Regions from separate parts of the Homo sapiens genome. Here region 2 is linked to region 1. A link means that fine-mapping ties the variant in region 1 to the expression of a gene that starts in the linked region. Tissue or cell type: whole blood. Region 1 holds a variant in brackets; the other region holds the start of a gene. All regions are shown on one strand. Distances are between the middles of the regions.

The links. PIP is the estimated chance that this variant, and not a neighbour inherited with it, causes the effect.
Region 2: it holds the start of TRIM47, and the variant in region 1 is fine-mapped to the expression of TRIM47 in whole blood (INTERVAL, PIP 0.96).

The regions. Positions count from the first base shown.
Region 1 is chr17:75,954,166-75,962,251 of GRCh38, reverse strand. ACOX1 (acyl-CoA oxidase 1) reads left to right here. Exons shown (of 14, transcript NM_004035.7): 3 at 1,877-2,037; 4 at 4,686-4,793; 5 at 6,305-6,424; 6 at 6,571-6,686. Among named protein-coding and RNA genes, the nearest start is that of FBF1, 17 kb to the right of the region's middle. The variant A/G (reference allele first, on the strand shown) is at 3,572.
Region 2 is chr17:75,874,868-75,882,953 of GRCh38, reverse strand. TRIM47 (tripartite motif containing 47) reads left to right here and starts at 4,373. Exons shown (of 6, transcript NM_033452.3): 1 at 4,373-5,080; 2 at 6,141-6,236; 3 at 6,462-6,692; 4 at 6,855-7,053; 5 at 7,480-7,554; 6 at 7,831-8,086. The coding sequence starts at 4,406. It also overlaps a transcript of TRIM65 not described here. RefSeq lists silencers at 4,189-4,538, 4,669-5,048, 5,059-5,238 and enhancers at 4,083-4,998, 4,999-5,914, 6,725-6,794, 5,915-6,830.

The DNA of each region.
Region 1 (8,086 bases):
TGAATCTGTAACTTGTCGTTATTATGGTCTTCACTAGAAATTGCATGTCTTTTTTAATTTCTGAAATAAATTATTGGGATGAAGAGCACTGTCAGTTTTTGTATTAAAGTGTTTCAGTAGAGCGTGGCCGAATATTTGACATGATGAATCTGAATGAAATGATCAGAGCTATGTGAGGAATATGGTTCTACGCTGGATGTTTTGTGGACAAAACAGAAAAAAAATCCCAGCCTAGAAGCATTATTGAAATTGCATCGAGGAAAAACTATAATCTGGGGGTCATACTGTCACTCTGAGAGAACTACTATGTTCTGTCTCGCTTTCTCATCAGAGGAAATCCTTGTACCAGTACCACTCAAATTCTCTGTTCTCCGACTCCTGGCTTCAAGCGATTCTGCCTCAGCATCCCAAGTAGCTGGGATTACAGGCACATGCCACCACACCCAGCAAATTCTCCATTCTATACAACTTTTTTTTTTTTTTTTTTTTTTTGAGACAGAGTCTCGCTCTGTTGCCCAGGCTGGAGTGCAGTGGTGTGATCTCGGCTCACTGCAACCACCGCCTCCCAGGTTCTCCTGCCTCAGTCTCCCAAGTAGCTTGGATTACAGGCATGTGCCACCACACCTGGCTGATTTTGTATATTTAGTAGAGATGGGGTCTCACCATGTTGGTCAGGCTGGTCTTGAACTCCTGACCTCAGGTGATCCGCCCACCTTGGCCTCTCAAAGTGCTGGGATTACAGGCATGAGCCACGGTGCCCGGCCTTTTTTTTTTTTTTTTTTTTTTGTATTTTTAGTAGAAACGGGATTTCACTATGTTGGCCAGGCTGGTCTCAAACTCCTGACCTCAAGTGATCCGCCTGCGTCAGCCTCCCAAAGTGCTAGGATTACAGGCATGAGCCACCATGCCTGGCCCTATACAACTTTTCAAATTCTCTCTCTCTTTTTTTTTTTTTTTTTGAGATGGAGTCTCACTGTGTCGCCCAGGCTAGAATGCAGTGGTGTTATCTTAGCTCACTGCAACCTCTGCCTCCTGGGTTGGAGCAATTCTCCTGCCTCAGCCTCCTGAGTAGCTGGGATTACAGGTGTGCACCACCATGCCTGCTTAATTTTTGTATTTTTAGTAGAGACAGGGTTTCGCCATGTTGGCCAGGCTGGTCTTGAACTCCTGACCTCAGGTGATCCACCCACCTCGGCCTCTCAGAGTGCTGAGATTATAGGTGGGAGCCACTGCACCTGGCCAATTCTCTCTTATTTATTTATTTATTTTTTTTGAGACAGAGTCTCACTCTGTCACCCAGGCTGGAATGCAGTGGGCATGATCTCGGCTCACTGCAACCTCCGCCTCCTAGGTTCAAGCGATTTTCCTGCCTCAGGCTCCCAAATAGCTGGGACTACTGGCTGGCGCCACCACGTTCAGCTGATTTTTGTATTTTTAGTAGAGTCAGGGCTTTGCCATGTTGGCCAGGCTGGTCTCGAACTCCTGACTTAAGGTGATCTGACCGCCTTGGCCTCCCAAAGTGCTGAGATTGTAGGCATGATCCACTGCACTGGCCTCTCAAATTTTCTTTATTTCCTTTGATTTAATTCCTGGGCGAGGATCCTCTGCCTTGCACGTGTGGTTTTGTGCTGCATTGGCTTTGGAATCAGTAACCAATCCCTGTCCTCGTACTCCTTGCCGACTCAGGAAAAATGGAAATTAACAAGAGCTATAAAGTAATACAGAAAGGGACAGTGCTCCCATCTATGATTAAGTGCACGCAACTAATTCATACTTAAGGTTTTTTTGTCTCCTTCCCTTGCTCTATTTAAATTGCTGATTCTCTCACACCTGATGACTCTTCTCTCAAATGCCCATCCTTGATATTTCCTCGAAGTTTTGTGCACCGAGGGCGGCCTGAGCCTCTGGATCTTCACTTGGGCATGTTCCTGCCCACCTTGCTTCACCAGGCAACTGCGGAGCAGCAGGAGCGCTTCTTCATGCCCGCCTGGAACTTGGAGATCATTGGCACTTATGCCCAGACAGAGATGGGTCATGGTATGGAGTATTCAGTCTACCTTCTGGGTTGGGCGGGCCCCTGTGAGCTTACCATGTGTGGAGTGCCCACCATGTGCCATCGATGGTGTGTCGATGTTCTATGGTCTGTTTAAATGAGCTCTTTCTGCAGAGTCCAGGTTTTGGTATAAACACTGCTTTGGTGAGTGGGAATTAAAGACCATGATACTGATAAAATGATTGTCCTTTTTATACCATAGTTCCCCTTCAGAGGGTCAAGAATTGCAAATCAGGCCTTATTTACCAAGTGGTTTTTCAATGTTACTGAGGTTGTATAGAATCTGTGTGCATATACAACCCGAAGCTGTTTTTTTCTTCATTACTATCTGATTACCTTTACTACTGATACCTTAATGAGTACAAATTCCAGAAGAAATACAAATAATAGTTTGTGTACTCTTGGATTTGCTTGAGGGAAATGAGTAGCTTATAACTGACGTGTGTGACATTTTGGAGTTATTTGTACTTTGAGTCAATCAGTAGTTCTGCAAGTGACTTGGCTGGAGAGTGAAAAAACCAAGATAAGCCGAACTTGCAGGCATTTGGTTTCAGACTCTGTATCTCCACCTTTCATTGATCTTTCCACCCCCCACCTGCTTTCTTCATGCACCTGGGTGGGCTGGAGGTGGCCGCTGTTCCTCTTTGTATCTTCTCTGAATTGGGTCCGTGTTTGCCATTCATTTGCTTATGGCTTCTCTTTTTCTGCTCTGACGTTTCAGAAAAACTGGTCTAGTGTGTATTTGCCACTTGCTCCTTATTTCTATACAGCTGCTGCTTTTTATTTGGTGTTGAATAGTATTTTACAGGATTTTCATGAGACTCCAAGTGGAATACTATTTGTTTCAGTTGTGCTTTTGAAAACATTTTGTCCTTATCTGTTCTGTTTAATGTTATCTGCTTTTCTGTAAAAGCTGCTTCTTTGATGAAAGATGTCTGTGTCTGATTTGTTGACTCCCACTCGGGAAAGTTGTGGATTGCACATAAGTTGGTTATTCAACTTGGAAGCTTCTAAATGTTTCAAAGTGTGTTTAATGAGGTCTAAGCGTTATGAAAGCAGATTGGTAAAAGGTTCCCAACGTTTGCTTTAGTACAGTATTTTTGTAGAGACTGCCACCTAGAACATTTTTCTATGACTCTTTTCAAATAATTTTGATATATTTGTGTTAAGATTTAAAACATAAGATCCTGTCTATCCCAGTACACATAAGAAACTGGAAACTCTTCCTTGCCACATTAATGAACCAGCAGGACTAAGTTAGGCCTGCCATTGGAAATCTCTAGGGTCAACTGAGACCTTATTATTGGACCTTTAGGAATTTTTAAAAGTCACATTTCAGGTCATTTCCCCAATAACAGTTATACTTTTATACTTTTTTTTTTTTTTTTTTTGAGACGGAGTCGTGCTCTGTCGCCCAGGCTGGAGTGCAGTGGCGCGATCTCAGCTCACTGCAAGCTCCACCTTCCGGGTTCACGCCATTCTCCTGCCTCAGCCTCCCGAGTAGCTGGGACTACAGGC[A/G]CCCACCACCATGCCCAGCTAATTTTTTGTATTTTTAGTAGAGACGGGGTTTCGCCGTGTTAACCAGGATGGTCTCGATCTCCTGACTTTGTGATCCGCCCGCCTTGGCCCCCCAAAGTGCTGGGATTACAGGCGTGAGCCACCGTGCCCAGCTTTAATTTTTTTGTTGTTTTTTTAGTAGAGACGGGGTTTCACCACTTTAGCCAGGATGGTCTCAATCTCCTGACCTCGTGATCCCCCCACCTCGGCCTCCCAAAGTGCTGGGATTACAGGCTTGAGCCACTGTGCCTGGCCTTTTTCTTTTTCTTTTTCTTTTTTTTTTTTTTTTGAGATGGAGTCTTGCTCTGCCACCCAGGCTGGAGTGCGGTGGCACAATCTTGGCTCACTGCAACCTCCACCTCCCGGGTTCAAGCAATTCTCCTGCCTCAGCCTCCTTAGTAGCTGGGACTACAGGCGCATGCCACAATGCCTGGCTAATTTTTTGTATTTTTAGTAGAGACGGGTTTCACCATGTTAGCCAGGATGGACTCGATCTCCTGACCTCGTGATCCACCCGCCTCGGCCTCCTAAAGTGCTGGGATTACAGGCATGAGCCACCACGCACAGCCATACATTTTTAATTTATACGAATTTTGGCTGAAATGTCTTCCTCTCACATGTTATCTCATTCTTCTCATTAGTACAGAATTCAAGAATGTTGAATTGGTGTGGTTAACACAATACATATGACTTGAAATTGGCATACTTGCAACTCAGAGATGGGTTTAAAAAGACAGTTAACATCCCTGTTAAATTCATATATTGTGATCTTAAAAATGTGATTCTAAGTTGCCTTTATATTTTCTTTCAGTTGCTGTAAATAAATGTAACAAATCAAATACAGAAATGGAACATGCATGACACTTAGATTTTCAACTTAATAGGAAACCATCAGATAGTGTGGGAAATTCAGTGTCTTGGTTATCAACCAGTTGTAGCTCATCTACAGGTGTTTTTTGTTAGATTTTGTTTTTCTCTGAGATATGAGAGTTTAAAGGACTGTGCAGGAAATTTTTCCTTGTGCCTATTTTTTTCCCCATCTCTTAACTGAAGTCAATGTAATTTATCTCCTTAGGAACTCACCTTCGAGGCTTGGAAACCACAGCCACGTATGACCCTGAAACCCAGGAGTTCATTCTCAACAGTCCTACTGTGACCTCCATTAAATGGTGGCCTGGTGGGCGTAAGTGAATTTTTCAGCATTTATTGGATGTTTTGAAGGTTTGTCATGAGATTTTGCTTAGAATGTAGAGCTTTTATGATAATGTCGGCCAGACTTGGTGGTGAAATCCTAACACTTTGGGAGGCTGAGGTGGGCAGATCACTTGAGGTCAGGAATTCAAGACCAGCCTGGTTAATATGCTGAAACCCCATCTCTACTAAAAATACAAAAATTAGCCGGGTGTGGTGGCGCACACCTGTAGTCCCAGCTACTTGGGAGGCTGAGGCAGGAGAATCACTTGAACCCGGGAAGGTTGCAATGAGCCAAGATTGCACCATTGCACTCCAGCCTGGGCATCACAGCAAGACTTTGTCTCAAAAACAACCCAACAAACAAATATATGTGTGTGTGGTGTGTGTACATAGAGGGGTGTGTGTGTGTGTATATAGACAGAGAGAGGTGTGTGTGTGTATATATATATATATATATATATATATATATATATATAGAGAGAGAGAGAGAGAGAGAGAGAGAGAGAGAGAGAGAGAGAGAGAGAGAGAGAGAGAGAGGAAAGCCAGGCATAGCGGCACATACCTATAGACCTATAGTCCTGGCTACTCAGGAGGCTGAGGTGGGAGGACCACTTGAGCCCAAGAGTTCAAGCCTGCAGTGAGCTACTATCTGTGATCATGCCACTGCACTCCAGCCTGGGTGACAGAGTGAAACCCTGTCTCTTAAAAAAAAAAAAGAAAAAAATTTAAATAGTTTTAACACAAACTTTTTTTTTTTTTTGAGATGGAGTCTCACTGTGTCACCCAGGTTGGAGTACAGTGGTGTGATCTCCGCTCACTGCAACCTCCACCTTCTGGGTTCAAGCGATTCTCCTGCCTCAGCCTCCTGAGTAGCTGGGACTACAGGAGCGTGCCACCACACCCAACTAATTTTTGTATTTTTAGTAGAGATGGGATTTCATCATGTTGGCCAGGCTGGTCTCAAACTCCTGACCTCTGGTCTGCCCGCCTCGGCCTCCCAAAGTGCTGGAATTACAGGCGCGAGCCACCGTGCCCGGCTGACCCGAAACTTTTATATCTTCTTATTCCATTCTGAGTTATTATCTTGGAATATATATTTCCAATACAGTTAGTGGTTGAAGGATTTTGTTATTCACATTATATATTTTATTTATTTATAATTTATATGTAAGAAGCCACATGTAGCTAGTGATTACTGTTTTGGACAGCACTGCCTTAAGGGATAACAAGGAAGTAGTTTAAATTAATATTCTTATTTTTATCCTAAAATTTTCTCTACGTAAATGTATGAGAAATAAGTAGAAAAGAAAGTAATAACTATTAGCTTAAGGGAATTTCTTTCTGAAAGCTAGGTGTGATGCTGTCAGCAGAAAGGCTTTCTGGACACATACTATTGGTTTAGTCTAGTGTTAGATTTAACATATTCTTTCTTCTTTTTTCTACCCTTTAAAAATGTATGAACGTTTGCCCACCCCTCCCTTGTTCTCTTTGATATTACAGTTGGAAAGACTTCAAATCATGCAATAGTTCTTGCCCAGCTCATCACTAAGGGGAAATGCTATGGATTACATGCCTTTATCGTACCTATTCGTGAAATCGGGACCCATAAGCCTTTGCCAGGTAAGAACTGTTCATCTGATGTTGAGATGAAAATGAAACTGAGCACTTTCTTCTGCAAAAGGTAGAATGCCCAACTGAAGAGGCGGAGCAAAAGCCAGAAATTCCAGAGCATAAACATCTCGTGACTGTCCTTTCATCTGTGGTAGGAATTACCGTTGGTGACATCGGCCCCAAATTTGGTTATGATGAGATAGACAATGGCTACCTCAAAATGGACAACCATCGTATTCCCAGAGAAAACATGCTGATGAAGTATGCCCAGGTATGTTTTGATAGAAAATAAAGCAGAGGCATCAAACAGTGGAGTTGAGTGGCTGTTACTCACAATAGGGTTAGAATGGTCTGTTCTTTTAGAAGGTAATAACAGCAGGGCACACTGGCATATTCCTGTTATCCCAGCACTTTGGGAGGCTGAGTGCGTGGATGACTTGAGCCCAGGAGCTCAAGATCAGTCTGGGCAACATAGTGAGAACCCATCTCTACAAAAAGTAAAAAAATCTAGCTGGGTATGGTGGCACACGTGTGTAGTCCCAGCTACTTGGGAGACTGGGGTGGGAGGATCACTTGAGCCTGGGAGGCCGAGGCTACAGTGAGCTGTGATTATGCCACCGTACTCCAGCCTAGATGACAGTGAGACCTTGTCTCAAAAAAAAAAAGGAGGCTGGGCGCAGTGGCTCACACCTGTAATTCCAGCACTTTTGGGAGGCTGAGGCGGGAAGATCATGAGGTCAAGAGATGGAGACCATCCTGGCCAACATGGTGAAACCCCATCTCTACTAAAAATACCAAAAAATTAGCTGGGCGTGGTGGTGCGCACCTGTAGTCCCAGCTACTCAGGAGGCTGAGGCAGGAGAATAGCTTGAACCCGGGAGGCGGAGGTTGCAGTGAGCAGAGATCATGACACTGCACTCCAGCTTGGCAACAGAGTGAGACTCCGTCTCATAAAAGGAGGGAATAAGGCTGGGCGCGGTGGCTCATGCCTGTAGTCCCAGCACTTTGGGAGGCCAAGGAGGATGGATCATAAGGTCAGGAATTCAAGACCAGCCTGACCAATATGGTGAAAACCTGTCTCTACTAAAAATACAAAGATTAGCCGGGTGTGATGGCACACGCCTGTAATCTCAGCTACTCAGGAGGCTGAGGCAGGAGAATCGCTTGAACCCAGGAGGCAGAGGTTGCAGTAAGTCGAGATCACACCACTGCACTCCAGCCTAGGCAATACAGCGAGACTCTGTCTCAAAAAAAAAAAAAAAAAAAAAGGAGCTAATAATGCATTTTTCCTTCTGATGCCCCTTTTTTTTTTTTTTGAGAGAGAGAGTCTCTGTCACCCATGCTGGAGTGCAGTGGCGTGATCTTGGCTCACTGCAACCTCCGCCTCCTGGGTTCAAGCGATTCTCCTGCCTCAGCCTCCCAAGTAGCTGGGATTACAGGCATGCGCCACCACACCCAGCTAATTGTTTTGTATTTTTAGTAGAGGTGGGGTTTCACCCTGTTGGCCAGGCTGGTCTCAAACTCCTGACCTCAGGGGACCCTCTTGCCTCGGCCTCCCAAAGTGCTAGGATTACAGGCATGAGCCACCGCACCCAGCATTTTTTGGTTTTTTTTTTTTTTTGAGACAGAGTCTTGCTCTGTCACCCAGGCTGGAGTGCAGTGGCGCAATCT
Region 2 (8,086 bases), 79 kb after region 1:
CAGGCTGGTCTCAAACTCCTGAGCTCAAGTCCTCGTGCCTTGGCTCCCAAAGTCCCAGGATTATAGGCGTGAACCACCACACCCAGCCACTTGTTTTTGTTTGATTTTTTTCCTTTTTTTCTCAAGCACTACTACTACAGCCAGACAGTCATATGTGAGATTTATAATTATTCAAGCTGCAACCTCTTGAGCTTAAATTCTGCTTCCTCTGCAGGACAAGTTATGTGACCTCTGGCAAGACATGGTACCTATCGGAATTCCAGTTGCCATCCTTTAGGATAGGGTCCTTGGACAGACAGAATGAGGGCAGGTGTGAACATGCTGAGCTCACATGGTGCCAGTTACCCTTGCCCTTGACTCTTAGACAATTCATTTTGAAGTGAACTAATACACTAGGCAAACAACTTCAAAACTCTGGAAATGGAAATGAAATAGCAAGATGCCAGGCTGGGCGCGGTGGCTCACGTCTGTAATCCCAGCACTTTGGGAGGCCGAGGCAGGCAGATCACCTGAGGTCAGGGGTTTGAGACCAGCCTGGCCAACATGGTGAAACCCCATCGCCACTAAAAAATACAAAATTTAGCCGAGCGTGGTGATGCATGCCTGTAATCCCAGCTACTGGGGAGGCTGAAGCAGGAGAATCGCTTGAACCCAGAAGGTGGAGGTTGCAGTGAGATGAGATTGCGCCACTGAACTCCAGCCTGGGCGACAGAGCGAGACTCCATTTGAAAAAAAAAGAAAAGAAGTAGCAAGATGCCACCACACTGACAAACCGCATCTCTGTGCTTTCCTCCTGGGGAGCAGATCTTTTCAAGCAGGGAGGACAGCAGGCTGTGGGTGGGGAGCAGAGGGTTGGCTGGGACCCAACCGGAAAGGCACCCCCTCCTTCCAGAACCAGGCAGGTTTGTGGCCTCACCAAACCCAGGCAGCCTGGGCACCAAAGCCACGGAGCAGGGTGGCACTGATGCCTGGGCCTCCCAACCGCTCCTGGGGCTTGGCAAACAAGTGATAGTCCTGATCAAGTGCTCTAGTGCTCTTGGTGGAAACCAATGTATGGAACTCATTACCCACCCTCCTGCCAAATCAGACACACCCAGGCCGGCTCCCTCTGCTACTCCCTCTGCCCGGAAGGTCTTTTCCCACCCCAGTCTCTGCCCGCCTGAGTCCTGGCAGTCTGTGAAAGCCCAGCTCAAATGCCACTTCCACAGTTCCCCAGCCTTTCCCATGGAGCCCCCAGGAGCAGATTGCACCGCTCTTTTGGCACTTGGAGTTGCAACAGTCTGAATGTGTGTGTACCCTCAGAATTGATGTGTTGAGATCCTGACCCCTAAGGTGATGGTCCTAGGAGGTGGGGTCTTCAGGTGGGCGGAGCCTCATTCATGGCATGAGTGCCCTTGTCCAAGGGGCCCCAAAGGCTCTCTGGCTGTCTCTTGGCCATGTGAGGACACAGTGGGAAGGCAGCCATCTACAACCCAGGAAGCAGCTCTCACTGGAACCCTGACTGTGCTGTCACCGTGATCGCAGACTTCCAGCCTCCAGAACTGTGAGGAGTGTCTGTTGTGTATAAGCCACCCAGTCTCTGGTGTTCTGGGATAGCAGCCCAGACACACTAAGACAGGGGTTCCTGAGTGCCTGGAGAGCCAGCTCCCTCCCCAAGAGGCTGGGTCCCTCCTTCTTTCTTTCTTCTTTTCTTTTCTTTTTTTTTTTTTTTTTTTTTTGAGATGGAGTCTCGCTGTGTCACCGAGGCTGGAGAGTACAGTGGCACAACCTCTGCCTCCTTGGTTCAAGCGATTCTCCTGCCTCAGACTCCCGAGTAGCTGGGAATACAAGTGTGTGCACCACCACGCCCGGCTAATTTTTTTGTATTTTTAGTAGAGATGGGGTTTCGCCATGTTAACCAGGCTGGTCTGGAACTCGTGACCTCAAGTGATCCGCCCGCCTCAGCCTCCCAAAGTCCTGGGATTCCAGGCGTGAGCCACCACACCCGGCACATTTGTGCTCTTTTGCTTGTGTTTTCTCCTCTTTAGCTCTGAACTCATGAAGTGCCTTCTGAACATTTCTAGTCTGGTCTCAGGGGACCTGAGGGTATTTTCCCACCCCCCAAGCCTAGAGAGCTGGGGAAACAGAGGCAGGAATGCAGACCCGGTGGGAGAGGTGGACAAGGGTTTGGGTGTGGGACAAGCAGCAGTGTGTGCTGAGGTTTAGGGAAGGGCCAGGGTCCTGGAACACAGAGAGGGCCAGGAACACCGGGGGACATGCATGACCTCTAGCACATTTGGGCCTGGGCCTCTCTCCAACATTTCCTTACTTATGCACTGTTATAGGTTGAATCCTGTTCCCTGAAAAAGACGTATTCGGATCCTAACCCCCAGGACCTGTGGCTGTGACCTTATTTGGAAATAGAGTATTTTCAGATGTGACTGAGTTAAGATGAGGGCATACTGGAGTAGAGCGTGCCCTAATCCAACAACTGGTGTCCTGATAAGAGGAAATGGGCACCGGGCACAGTGGCTCACGCCTGTAATCCTAGCACTTTGGGAGGCTGAGGCAGGCAGATTACTCGAGCCCAGCAGTTTGAGTGGGCAACAGAGCAAGACTCCCTAAAAAAAAAAAAAAAAAGGACATTTGAACACAGACACAGAGAAAAGGCAAATGACAACAGAGACTGATATTAGAGCGCATCTTACAGCTACAAGCCAAGGAACGCCAAGAATTGCCAGCCAGTACCAGAAGCTGGGACAGACGCCCAGGACAGAGTCTCCCTCAGATCCTGCAGAAGGAAGCCACGCTGCAGCACCTTACTGAAACACAGCATTTCTTTCTATTCCAAATGGAGAGAATACACCAGAGTGGTATGAGCAGTTACCTGTGACTTTGTCACTAACCAAAATTACAGATATCTCTGGGTGCGGTGGCTCATGTCTGTAATCCCAGCACTTTGGGAGGCCGAGGCGGGTGGATCACCTGAAGTCAGCAGTTCGAGACCAGCTTGGCCAACATGGTGAAACCCCGTCTCTACTAAAAATACAAAAATTAGCCAAATGTGGTGGCGGGCGCCTGTAATCCCAGCTACTCAAGAGTCCGAGGAGGGAGAATCGCTTGAACCCAGGAGACAGAGGTTGCAGTGAGCTGAGATTGCGCCACTGCACTCCAGCCTGGGCGACAAGAGCGAAACTCCATCTAAAAAAATAAAAATAAAAAAACATTATTTGGAATTTTCAATGCGAAATATGTCTGTTCTCCCCAGCTTGTTAATTTATTATTTATTTATATCGGCATGGACTCATAGATGTTTATTTTACACTTTGGGTTATAATCAGTGCTACTTTACTTATTTTGTTGTCATTCTGGTGTAGTGTTTTAACTTAACATTATTGAGATATAACTCATACAATAAAACGCACCACTTTAAGTGCATAATTAGATGAGCTTTAAATACTTCCAGTTGGGGAACCCCCAACCCCACCACAGGTGTCCCCAGTGTCCAGGGGCCAGAACTACATTCCTCAGACAAGGGACTTAGGGAATGACGTCAACTTCCCATTTCAGGTCTAGAAAAGTCCAAGTTCCCTACTTGGGGTAAAGAGTCGCTAAAGGAGCTGGGCGCTGTGGCTCACGCCTGTAATCCCAGCACTTTGGGAGGCCGAGGCAGGTGGATCACCTGAGGTCACGAGTTCAAGACCAGCCTGGACAAGGTGAAACTCCGTCTCTACAAAAAAATACAAAAATTTGCCTGGTGTGGTGGCAAGCGCCTATAATTCCAGCTACTTGGGAGGCTAAGGCAGGAGAATCACTTGAATCCGGGAGGCGGAGGTTGCAGTGAGCCGAGATAGCGCCCCTGCACTCCAGCCTGGGCGACAAGAGAGGAACTCTGTCTCAAAAAAAAAAAAAAAAAGAGTCGCTAAGGGGCAAAAACATATGTACATCAGCAGTTATTTTTCTCTGCAGTCAGCAGCTCAGGAACTTTGCTAAGGGTGCCAGGGAGGGGTCGAGCGCAAAGGTGCAGGCATGACACAGCTAGACGCGCCCAGCCCCTGCGGAGCGCTGGCCTGGCCCAGAAGGACCAGAGGGATGGAGGCTGAGTCCTTCCCATTCCTTCCACTGTACCTCTCGCGTTCTCCGCCCGCGCTCACTCAGTTTCACACCCTTTCAGCAGCGCCCTTCCTTAGGACCACGCGGACTCCCCTGGGGGTCGCGCGGGCTCGGAGGCCTCCCTGCGTTGTCTGGGCGGGGACTGGGAGTCCGCGGGCCCGCAGGCGGGCGGTGCTGCGGGGCGGGCCGAGCTGGGGGCGGGCGGGGGCCGGAGCCCTGGCCTAGGTCCCAGGGGGAGGTGCCGCGGCGCGAACGGCCCGGGTCCCTCCCAGGCCGGAGCACAATCGGCGGCGCCCTGGGCGGCCGCGGAGTCATGGACGGCAGTGGACCCTTCAGCTGCCCCATCTGCCTAGAGCCACTCCGGGAGCCGGTGACGCTGCCCTGCGGCCACAACTTCTGTCTCGCCTGCCTGGGCGCGCTCTGGCCGCATCGTGGCGCGAGTGGAGCCGGCGGACCCGGAGGCGCGGCCCGCTGCCCGCTGTGCCAGGAGCCCTTCCCCGACGGCCTTCAGCTCCGCAAGAACCACACGCTGTCCGAGCTGCTGCAGCTCCGCCAGGGCTCGGGCCCCGGGTCCGGCCCCGGCCCGGCCCCTGCCCTGGCCCCGGAGCCCTCGGCACCCAGCGCGCTGCCCAGTGTCCCGGAGCCGTCGGCCCCCTGCGCTCCCGAGCCGTGGCCCGCGGGCGAAGAGCCAGTGCGCTGCGACGCGTGCCCCGAGGGCGCGGCCCTGCCCGCCGCGCTGTCCTGCCTCTCCTGCCTCGCCTCCTTTTGCCCCGCGCACCTGGGCCCGCACGAGCGCAGCCCCGCCCTCCGCGGACACCGCCTGGTGCCGCCGCTGCGCCGGCTAGAGGAGAGCCTGTGCCCGCGCCACCTACGGCCGCTCGAGCGCTACTGCCGCGCGGAGCGCGTGTGTCTGTGCGAGGCCTGCGCCGCACAGGAGCACCGCGGCCACGAGCTGGTGCCGCTGGAGCAGGAGCGCGCGCTTCAGGAGGTGGGCTCCGGGGGCACACTCGGGTGAGCCGGGGCTGGTGACCGACCGCGCGCGAGCGGGCCGAGGACCTTGGACCCCCCAGTCTTCCCGGGTTGGGTCTTAATCTCCTCCTCTAACCTGAGGATCTTTGCGGTCCCTTCCAGCCTTGACAAGGTCATCTGCTGGCGGTGATGGAGATGGGAAGGGAGGAAGGAGGGACGTGAGAACAGGACAAGGACGCGAAGAGCGGGCAGGGGACCTGAAGCCGGGCCGGGGTCTATGGGGGTGTAGGCGGGAGGGAGCCGGGTTAGGCCCGCGGGGTTCCGGTAGCGTGGCTGCTGCTCCCGCCCGGAGGGTCACGCCGGTCTCAGCTCAGATTTGCCCTGGGCTGAGGCAGCAGCTTTCGATGGGTGTGGCAGGCGGCAGGAGGGCGGCAGAGGGCGACCGGGCACACAGATTCTCTGTCCAGCTGTTCCGGGGGCCAGTGGTGGGAGCATGTGAGCCGCGGCCTCTACCTCCCGCCCCCAGTTTCCTTTGGCCTCCAGCCCGGTCTTGGCGCCTCTGGCCAAGGGATTTTCCGTTTCTCCTGCCTGGAGCAGTGACTCATAAGACCTAGGGGATTTGCCCGGAATCCCCTTTTTTCCAGGCCTGGACTGTGGATGCAGGCTCTTTGGGAACAGTGATCCTCAGGACAGCTTAATGCCTCCTTGTGCAGTCACCCCTCCGCCGCCCACCTCCCAACCTAACTGGCTTACTCTCTGCCTCTTCCCCGCCGGAGGAAGTTCTCAAATTCATCTGAGCAACACTGAGACCAGCGGACGGCCCTGTACTAGGCCTCCTGTCAGAGACCCGAGGCAGACACCCAGTCAGCCTGCACGCCCCCCAGGCGTTCAGGAAAGGCACCAGCCTGGGCTGCAGGCACCTCTGGCATATTATGGGACATCGTGGCCACTCCAGTCCCACCTGATGCACAGATACCACTCCCCAGTCACCCCCTTCTCTCCCCTGGCAAGGCCTGGGACCCGAGTGTAGGGCTGTGGCCTCTGCCAGACCTCACACTCATGGAGGGTGTTGTCCACAGGCTGAGCAGTCCAAAGTCCTGAGCGCCGTGGAGGACCGCATGGACGAGCTGGGTGCTGGCATTGCACAGTCCAGGCGCACAGTGGCCCTCATCAAGGTCAAACACCCCTCCCTCAGCATGGAACAATCCACTCCAAACAAACCATGCCCATACCTACTGAGCACAAGTGTCCCCTGACCTGGCCCAGATCCAGGACAGGCTCAGTCTGGCCCCTCTGTCCCCTCAAGAGGGCCGGTGGGAAGCCGGGGTCAGGGAAGGAGGGGGGTACAGTCCGGGACGGTTCTTTGCCCTCATTGCCCCCTCTACTGTCGTCCTGTGCAGAGTGCAGCCGTAGCAGAGCGGGAGAGGGTGAGCCGGCTGTTTGCAGATGCTGCGGCCGCCCTGCAGGGCTTCCAGACCCAGGTGCTGGGCTTCATCGAGGAGGGGGAAGCTGCCATGCTAGGCCGCTCCCAGGGTGACCTGCGGCGACAGGAGGAACAGCGCAGCCGCCTGAGCCGAGCCCGCCAGAATCTCAGCCAGGTCCCTGAAGCTGACTCAGTCAGCTTCCTGCAGGTGAAGGCCGCTCTGGGGGCCACGGAAGGAACAGAAGCTGGGACAGGTGGGGTGGAGGGAGGAGGAGGCAGTGGGTGCATGACTTCCTGGCAGAGCTGCCTCCACCCCCAGCAAGGAGGAGCCATGGCCAGCAGCACTTTAATGGGCATTTGTCTGGCACAGGAGCTGCTGGCACTAAGGCTGGCCCTGGAGGATGGGTGTGGCCCTGGGCCTGGACCCCCGAGGGAGCTCAGCTTCACCAAATCATCCCAAGCTGTCCGTGCAGTGAGAGACATGCTGGCCGTGGCCTGCGTCAACCAGTGGGAGCAGCTGAGGGGGCCGGGTGGCAACGAGGATGGGCCACAGAAGCTGGACTCGGAAGGTGGGCACCGCCCCACGCCCCCCCGATGACTCACCCTCTGCCAGCCTCTCGCACAGGCCCCCAGGCCTGGCGCCCATCCAGAAGTGGAGGAGGAAAATTGTGCCTGGCACAGGGAGGAGCCCAAATCCTGCCAGTGACTAGAGCTGCCACCCTGTGGGGATCAATCAGCCCCTTGGACCTGGGGTAGAGGGGGCTTCTCCTAGCCCACCCTCTAGCTCCAGAGGGCTGTGGCCCGGGAAGCACATGGGGCAAGAGGCAGAACACAGGCAACGGGCATGTGTGTGAGCACAGCGTGCCACATCTGGGTGGTGCTTGCTCCCTGGTGGCTCTGGACTCTGGGAGGAAGTGAAGGGGGTAGGGATTGTAGTCACAGGTTCAGAGGGGGGCAGTCTGGGGGCGTTCTCACCACTGTCTCCTCTTCTACAGCTGATGCTGAGCCCCAAGACCTCGAGAGTACGAACCTCTTGGAGAGTGAAGCTCCCAGGGACTATTTCCTCAAGTGTAAGTGGACGCCCGTGCCCCCTCCACTCACACTGGGCCCTCCCAGGGCTGCTGGGCTGGTCCCAGCAGGGCCCTGGCACACAAGGGTTAGGATTCCTCTCCCCAGTTTGTGGGGAGAGCTAGGGCAGCTCCTGGGGTGGTCCCCGGCGGGGCTGGGTTGTGCCGGTTGGAAAGCAGGGGAGAGGCTGTGTTTTGGGGGGGTGGGTACTTGGGGAGGGGCCGTGCCCTCTGAGCCTGGCCCTGAGCCCTGCCTCTCTCTTCTGTCCACGGGATCAGTTGCCTATATTGTGGATTTGGACAGCGACACAGCAGACAAGTTCCTGCAGCTGTTTGGAACCAAAGGTGTCAAGAGGGTGCTGTGTCCTATCAACTACCCCTTGTCGCCCACCCGCTTCACCCATTGTGAGCAGGTGCTGGGCGAGGGTGCCCTGGACCGAGGCACCTACTACTGGGAGGTGGAGATTATCGAGGGCTGGGTCAGCATGGGGGTCATGGCCGAAGACTTCTCCCCACAAGAGCCCTACGACCGCGG